3 separate regions of the Homo sapiens genome follow, and all the other regions are linked to region 1. Evidence: fine-mapped expression QTL. A gene starts in region 1. Each other region holds a variant in brackets. All regions are shown on one strand. Distances are between the middles of the regions.

Region 1 (2,764 bases):
CGTTAGAATCTTAACTAGCTTTCAAAGAAAAAACTTACTCCTGTTAACACCAAACAGATTTGCTCCCATCTATAAAACACAGTGCCACTGTGCTCAAGAGGAAGATGTCAGAGACTTAGGCCTAACTCGGCAAGTCTTCCCAGAGTAGCTAGTCCTCTAAAATGATGCTTTAATAGGCTTAACGGAAACAATCTCATTTACAGTGAGGCTTCCAAATGGTGAACACGGTAAAGAGCAAATCAGCAACATTAAGTGCACATTTGTTTGTGGGAAGGCATTAGGAAAGAGGTTTTTCTAAGTACAGTAATTCTAAAAATGTGTTTTCTTAGGGAACAATAGTAATATTTAGACTAATTGCAAATGTTAATATGTGCAATATAATTTCAGTCTCCATCCTACATATACATTTTTTTTTACCACCAGTACTCAAAATGTTTATTTGTACTTCTCAATTCCTATCAATGATTTCTAATGCTGGTGTATGAAAAGCATGCTTGAAATTGTTTGAAATAAAGGACTTAGGGACAGAGTGGAATGCTGGAAATCTGTAAAAGGACTGGAAACGCTGGAATGCTGGAAATCATGGTAGGCGCATAGCCAGTTATTTTCGTAGGCTTCTCTATCTCTAATTACTCAGCAGAGGTGGTTTTATTTTCCTTGACAGTCTGCTCTAGGAAGCAATCAGCCAACCAGTTTGCAATTGTAGGGTTTGTAAGAAATGAAAAACACTGCACCTGCAAGTGTTTTAGCATCTACCACTATTCGGCTTACTTACGTAACCTCCTTCCCAAGACCAAGTCAGTAGGATTGTTTTTAAAGCAACCTCTCCATTTCTAGGAGGGGCACAAAAGCTAGCAAATACCCCAACCCGAATACAAGCGAGGTTGTGGAGAAAGTAATGAAGGAGTTTGTGTGCAAACAGCGGGGAAAGGAGGTTCTGTTGAATTGTACCGTGTGTCCGTTCTCGTGCTGTACAGGCAATGAGTGTAGTCTGTGCGAACCGGGTGTGTGACGTTTGCTTTTCGGGTGTACGGGTCTCCGAATGCTGCTTCTGCTGTGCTCACCAAGGGAGCGCGTGTGCGGCGTGTGTCTGCGAAGCGGGCAGGTTGTGTTTAGTTGTGCTGTGCCTTGGAACAGTCCGTGTGAACAGAGGAGGGCTTACGGTTAACAGACAAAATACCGTAAGCGCCCTTCCTAGAGCCAGGCACAGAGACAACGGCGGCCTCTGGCGCCGGCACAAGGGACAGCGTGGCCCGGATCTCAGAGCCTGGGTCACTCCTCCTCCCCTCCAGCGACACAGCACTCCCCCAACCCTTCCGCCCACCTCCGCCGAGCCTCGGCTGCACTCACCTCTCTCCAGCCGCACGGGTTCCCCTAGCGCCGCCATCTTCTCCCTTAACCTACAGACCCACAGGAAATGACGACAGAAGGGCTGAGGTGGGGGGGCGGGGCCTAGGGGAAGCCGGAAAAGTGAGTACCGGCTAGTATCGCGAGATCAGGAAGGTGGCCGAGTGTGTCGCCGCGGCCATCAGGGTAAGGGTACCTGGACTTGCGGCTTTTTAGGTCGGCCTGGCTCCGCTCCTTCCGCGGTGACGAGGTCCCCCGGCCTCCTAGGGTTGGGAAGAGCTGCTTTCCTGACTCTCGTTCCCTGCCTCAGGCTTCCCTTATCCCAATCGCTTCGAACCCTTGGCTCAGCGTAGAGGAGTCAAGCCTGGATTCTAGTCCCACCTTGCCCATTAGCAGCTCTGTGACCTGGGACTGTTCACTTACCCTCTCTCAGCCTCAGTTTCCGCATCTGTACAACGAGAGGTCCTATCTCTTAGGTCCTTACAATTTTTAAACTCTGGGATTCGGTGGCAATTAAATGTGTAATGACATGTTGTCAGTTCTCAATTTGTGACAGCATTGCTTTAAATTTAAAAATCCACGGCTTGAATCTTCCCTCCAAATCTGTTAAGGGGTGGAAAGTACAAAGAGCATGAAACATATCTGGGTGAGGGAGAGAACAAGGTGCTTTGGTGCACCACAAAGTAACAATTTTATAAGCAGCTGATTCTTATAAAATCTTAAGTAAATGAAATATTGTGAAGCAAATAATATTCTTAATGCATTACAGATTTTTGAGCCACTTCTGAAATTTTCGCGAACCAAGAAGAATTTTAGTACTTGGATTTGACTAACATTTATCCAAGCCCTTAGTCTGTACTGATACTGTGGTAGGTGTGTTTACATCCAGCATTTCAACACTTCATGATGGGACTGTTTTAATAACCTGTTTGCCCCTGGTCCACCCTTTCCATTCACCTTTAGTATTTTCTTCTCCAAATCCATCATGGATGCCACCACTATGCTCCTTTTTCTCCCCTTGAATTCTGATTTCATCATCACAAGTTCTGTTCAGAAACTTTCAATGGTTTCTCTCCTGTTTCCTATTTCTAAAGCCTTGCATACTCTGACCCTAACTCATCCAACTAACTTCATTTCTCATTACCACTAAGTGCAACCACCACTTCAGTCCAGATAGTATAGTTTCAACCATATTTATTCCTGATTCCAAGTCTTTTTGTTTGTTTTAGAGACAGAGTTTCTCTCTGTTGTCCAGACTGGAGTGCAGTGGTGCAATCACAGCTCAAGAGAGCCTCCTGTCTCAGTCTTGCCAGTAGCGAGGACTACAGGCAAGCACCACCATGCCTGGCAAATTTTTAAATTTTTAGTAGAGATGGGGGTCTTGCTATGTTGCCCAGGCTGGTCTCAAACTCCTGAG
Region 2 (2,764 bases), 23 kb before region 1:
TGCAGTGACATGATCTTGGCTCACTGCAACCTCCACCTCCTGGGTTCAAGCAATTCTCCTGTCTCAGCCTCCCAAGTAGCTGGGATTACAGGCCTGCACTACCATGCCTGGCTAATTTTGTATTTTTGGTAGAGACGGGGTTTCACCATGTTGGCCAGACTGGTCTCGAACTCCTGACCTCAGGTGATCCACCCCGCCTCGGCCTCCCAAAGTGCTGGAATTACAGGCATGAGCCACTGCACCCAGCTGGATTTTGTTTTTCAAGGACTATTTACCACATACCTACTTTTCAAAATGTACTCCGCTAGGTACTGAAGAGTTTTGACTGATGCAGGGCTGTCTGCATGTAAATCACCCTGGGAAGGTTTGTAATACAGAAGTTCCAAGATTCCATCTCCATTGATTCTATTATAGAAGGTCTCTGTGGGTCCCTGAATTCCCAGTGTTTAAAAAGTTCCTGATTCTGATGTAGGCCTCCACCACTAACCAAGACGTATGACTTTTTGCTACAAGATAAGGCAAGTGTGGGTCCTCTGAGAAGCAGACATCAATATGGGATTACTCATGCAAGAGATTTGTTAGGGGAAGTGATTGTGAAGGGAAAATGGGGAGGGAGCTAAGGGCGTCTGAGAAACCATCAGATTGAGATGTGGGTCTGGCCCCAGGTGAGGAGGTGAAGGAAGGAAAAGAGTCTTAGATTTCAGTGCAGTTCTATAAAATTTCAGCAAAGCCACAAAAATTATCTGCCAGAGTCTCACGTCTCCCAGGAACAGGACTGCCTTAGTATCTCAGCCATGCTCAGTCATGGGCTGGGACCAGCCCATAGGAAGTGTGGCCTTGGCACAAACAGGGTGAAGGATTTTACCTTAGGACTGTTAGTCAATTAGTGTCCCCACAGTGAGAGGTCTGACAGGTGCCTTTCACTGCAGCCCCAGGATATAAGGTACGACATGGAGCTCTCCTACAAGCAGTTTACAATTCAACTTTCAGAATGTAGAAACACAGGGTTAGAAAAGACATTAACGCTAGTTTAATTACCTTCCTAAGGCTTAAGAAGGCTGAACAGCATCCCTGCTATTCTTGGATACCTTAGAGTTGGCATATTCATACCTCCATGGGGAGTAGTCCATCTTTGGGCACTTCTGGCTGTTAGAAAGTTGTATTACGTTGTGACAAACTGTTTCTTCTTGATGCTTTAAAAATTAGAAATAAGGCTGGGTGTGGTGGCTTACGCCTGTAATCCCAGCACTTTGAGAAGCTGAGGCGGGAGGATTGCTTGAGCTCAGGAGTTCAAGACCAGCTTGGGCAACAGCGAGACCTCATCTCTACTTAAAAAAACAAACAAACAAACAAACAAACAAACAAAAAAACACATAGCTCTCTGGGCTTAGACTTAGTTTGCGGTGACATGGCCAAATGCACCAAGAAAGTCAGAATCATCAGTAAATATGGGACCCGCTATGGGGCCTCCCTCCGGAAAATGGTGAAGAAGAATTGAAATCACCCAGCACACCAAGTACATTTGCTCTTTCTGTGGCAAAACCAAGATGAAGAGATGAGCTACGGGGATCTGGCACTGTGGTTTCTGCATGAAGACAGTGGCTGGCAGTGCCTGGACCTACAATACCACTTCTGCTGTCACGGTAAAGTCGCCATCAGAAGACTGAAGGAATTCAAAGACCGGTAGA[C/T]GCTCTTCTACTCTTTGAGACATCATTGGCCTATAATAAATGGGTTAATGTATGTAACAAAATTGCCTTGGCTTGTTAACTTTATTGGACATTCTGATGTTTGCATTGTGTTAATACTATCGTTTTGGAGAAGCATGCTGTGATGGATTATTTTAATTCAGTTTCTTTTTTTAGTAGTCAAATGATAAAATATGGCATAAGGATACAAGTCTTCCAAGTTAGATATATCTATTAGCTTTTTATAAGTCTGTTCCTACCAGTTTGATTTTGAGATACACTGGAGCAAACTGCAAACTTTAGTGTTTGTTAGTTTGTTTTTTGAGACGGAGTCTTGCTCTGTTGCCCAGTCTAGAGTGCAGTGGGGCGATCTCTGTTCACCACAACCTCCACCTCCTGGGTTCAGGCAATTCTCTGCCTCAGCCTCCCGAGTAGCTGGGATTACAGGTGCCCGCCACCATGCCCGGCTAATTTTTGTATTTTTAGTAGCGACAGGGTTTCACCATGTTGGCCAGGCTGCTCTTGAACTCCTGACCTCGTGATCTACCTGCCTCGGCCTCCCAAAGTGCAGGGATTACAGGTGTGAGCCACTGCACCTGGCAGTTTAGTTTTAAAATTACAGTTAATATTTAAAAAAAATGTTTTTAGGCTGGGCATGGTGACTCAGGCCTGTAATCCCAGCACTTTGGGCAGCCGAGGCAGGTGGATTACTTGAGGCCAGGAGTTTGAGACCAGCCTGGCCAACACAGCGAAACCCTGTCACTACTAAAAATACAAAAAATAGCTGGGTATGGTGGTGCATGCCTGTAATCTCAGCTATTTGGGAAGCTCAGGCACCAGAATCACTTGAACCCAGGAGGCAGAGGTTACAGTGAGCTGAGATCATGCCACTGCACTCCAGCCTGGGTGACGGAGACTCTTGTCTCCAAAAAAGTTTCTAAAGGTTTAGGATATACTAAATAATATACGTATACTGCCTCTTCTATTATACTTTTGGTGTTTTCTTTGACCTACACTGTATCAGCATTTTCAGGAAACAATATGAAACAATTATAATTTCCCATTAAATGTCTCTCTAT
Region 3 (2,764 bases), 270 kb before region 1:
CATTTAACAAGTCAATGCTTTAATTACGCATATACATGCAAAACCAAAATACAATCGAATTGTGCAATTGACAATATAATTTCAAGATTTATGGAAAGCAAGTAATGGATTGTGAACACATTGTGTTGGCAAGGTGGCCTAGTAAGGAGACAAAACTGTAGAGCTCTCTGATGTACACCTTCTTTCAATCCTTTCCCTGAAGCTCTGTGACTCAATGGCATCATTTGGAGATTAAAAACAAGTCTAAAATTGAGATTTGTTGCCAAATTGCTTCCCTTAAACACCTCCTCCTTTTATCACCACCAATGGATTCTGATTGCACCATTAGCCTTTATTCCTTGTATTATTATTGGCATTTTTCCATGCAAATGTCTGGGCTTCCCAACCAGAGTAAAAGGGTCATACACTCTGCTATAACTTTTCATGCTTGTAACAGACATGCAACATATTAATTGAACTACTGATACTTGTTTTTAAAAAAAACTAGCTAACAAAAAATTGATCTCTCTCCATCATAAATTCATACTTTTTCTTTACCATCCCAACTCATATACACCCTCCCCATCATGCCTACTCTATGACATAGAAAAAGAACTCTCATATCAATGCTTTCTCTTTGCTTTCTTTCCAAACCCTTTTGAGTAAGGACACTGCCCTTTCCCGTTACCCTCTCCCCAGAAGGCAAACACGAATCTCCTGGCAGCTGCTCCATTTATCCCTCTTGAGGCAGACACCGCCTTTCATTGTTATTTCAGTTGATCCAGTTGTGAATAAGGCATCAGATGCACTTTCTCTGAACATTCAACCTCTGATCGCTAAATAGCAAGAGGTTTGGATGATGTCTCTGGCAAGAATCCTTTCCCATCTGCTTCTAGTTCGGGGCCGACCTTTGACAGCCCTCCATCCATGACTCTAAGTGGTGTGGAAAGTGCTGTGGTCTCTGGCAAGTTGATTTGGTCCAAGGGAGCCGTTTATTTTTCCTAGCAAGACTGAGGAGGGATTTTGTGTCTCAGCATCATGTAGACTAAAGCTTATCACCAATTTCTCCAGAACAGATGTGTCTTCTTTTGACATAGGGAAGTTCTGTTATCAGATGCAAAAGGCCTTTTGAATTATGTTTTTGCTCTAAGGAAACAACAGTAGTTTTTAAAGATAGAAGCAACCAACATCTCCACATCTCCCTGGAGGACATCATGAAAAGATGTGTCCCATCCTCACCATTTCCTCATCCCACT[C/G]CCTTTAGTTAAAGCCAGTACTTATTATCTAGAAAACAAAAATCACTTCCTAATTGTTCTACCTGCCTCCTTTGTTGCCCTTGCCATCCATCTTCTACTTGCTACCAGACTGATCCTTTTGAAGTCTAAGCATGACTACCACCCTTGCTCAAATACCTGTAATAGTTCTGCATTGTTTATAAGAGAAAGTACATGTTTCTTAGCAAGCATACAAGGTTCTCCATAATTCCCCACTAGCTATTCAGCCTCAAACCCTTCTCCCTTACCTTCTCATACCCTCTCTACCACTCTAACCACAGTGATGCTCTCTGGCCTCTTAGCTAAGAGTGGCAAACTCAGGTGCCTACAAGGACCAAGCCAATGATAACAAGTGTGAGAACTGGAGGAGATGAAACAGTAGGAACTAGTAGAGTCTGTGAATTGAGTTATCTCATTTTTTTTTAGAGAAATTAGGCCAAACCAGGCATAAACATGGTTTATATTTGGCCCATGGTGACAGATGAAGACTCTCACTCCAGGTTTTCACTCATGCTAAAATCCGAGTGCCTAAAAAGGCCTCCTGTGTCCCTCACCACTGCTACTCCTTCACCTAGCTCATTATTTATCTCACAGAGCTCGGTTCCAATGCCATCTCCCCAAAAATCTTCCTGGTATTCATTCTGGGTTAGTTGTCCTCCTCCAGCTCTCAAAGCTATCTCTGGCCCCTTTGTGACAGCAGTAGCCACACTGTTACTTGCCTGACACCATGGCTTACCTGACTCCTTAATAGACCAGGACTTCCTTGCTGAAAGTGAATGTCTTACTCTCCCTGAGTAAGTACACAGAGTAAATGCTTATAGCAGACATATGTTTTGTCTATACAGGACCTCTTCTTCCCTATTCATGGAAATAGCAGCTGCTACTATCCTTTAAGGAACTGTCCTTTCTCTGCTCCTTGTGGTTTAGGTAAAGCTACTCAACCAGAGGACTCCATCGCTATCCTAGGGGAGGGCATATGACCCAAGATAGACCAATCAATTTTTTTTTGTACCCAGGAATGAAGAGGATTCAAAAAGAATAAAAGGCAACTGGAGCTATGTTACCTGGTGGCAGCACTCTAGAAGAGCTACAAGTGCCCTGGTTCCTAGAGTCTATTCTTCTCAATGTTTTGAACCAGTGAGTGTTTGCTGTGTAACAAATAATCGTAGTATACAATAATATCTATTTGTTTATCTCAAAATTTTAGAGACATGCAATTTGAACTTGGTTAGGCTGGGCATTTCTCTTGTCTTGGAGGGATTCACACATGCATCTACAACTGACTGTTGGTGAACAGGAAACTTGCTGGTCTAGGGTGGCTTCACCTGGGTCTTGCTGTTTTCCAGCATTCTAGCCTGAGCTTATTCACATGCAGTTGGGCAGATTTCCAAGAAAGAGAATAGAAATACACAAGACCTGTTGAGGCCTACACTCAGACTGGGTATATCACCATTTCCACTGCATTCTATTGGCCAAAGTAAGTTATAGGATCAGCCTAGATTGAAGAGGGT

Which allele goes with the higher level. Positions count from the first base shown, and alleles are read on the strand shown. Sizes are in standard deviations (SD) of each study's normalised expression. Not every link is listed here.
In carriers of allele C in region 2, the expression in esophagus muscle of the gene that starts at base 1,487 in region 1 tends to be lower than with T alone (small effect, 0.23 SD a copy in GTEx).

Evidence for each region. PIP is the estimated chance that this variant, and not a neighbour inherited with it, causes the effect.
Region 2: its variant is the best candidate, but not a certain one, in a credible set for the expression of BDNF-AS in esophagus muscle (GTEx, PIP 0.73).
Region 3: its variant is the best candidate, but not a certain one, in a credible set for the expression of BDNF-AS in tibial artery (GTEx, PIP 0.82).

Annotation. Positions count from the first base shown.
Region 1 is chr11:27,505,366-27,508,129 of GRCh38, forward strand. It overlaps BDNF-AS (BDNF antisense RNA), which reads left to right and starts at 1,487. Exons shown (of 7, transcript NR_033315.1): 1 at 1,487-1,533. It overlaps LIN7C (lin-7 cell polarity scaffold C), which reads right to left and starts at 1,404. Exons shown (of 5, transcript NM_018362.4): 1 at 1,351-1,404. The coding sequence starts at 1,387. RefSeq lists enhancers at 965-2,164, 1,321-1,450, 1,521-1,810.
Region 2 is chr11:27,482,442-27,485,205 of GRCh38, forward strand. It overlaps the pseudogene RPL37AP7. Among named protein-coding and RNA genes, the nearest start is that of LGR4, 11 kb to the left of the region's middle. The variant C/T (reference allele first, on the strand shown) is at 1,689.
Region 3 is chr11:27,238,678-27,241,441 of GRCh38, forward strand. No RefSeq gene overlaps it. Among named protein-coding and RNA genes, the nearest start is that of BBOX1-AS1, 21 kb to the left of the region's middle. The variant C/G (reference allele first, on the strand shown) is at 1,236.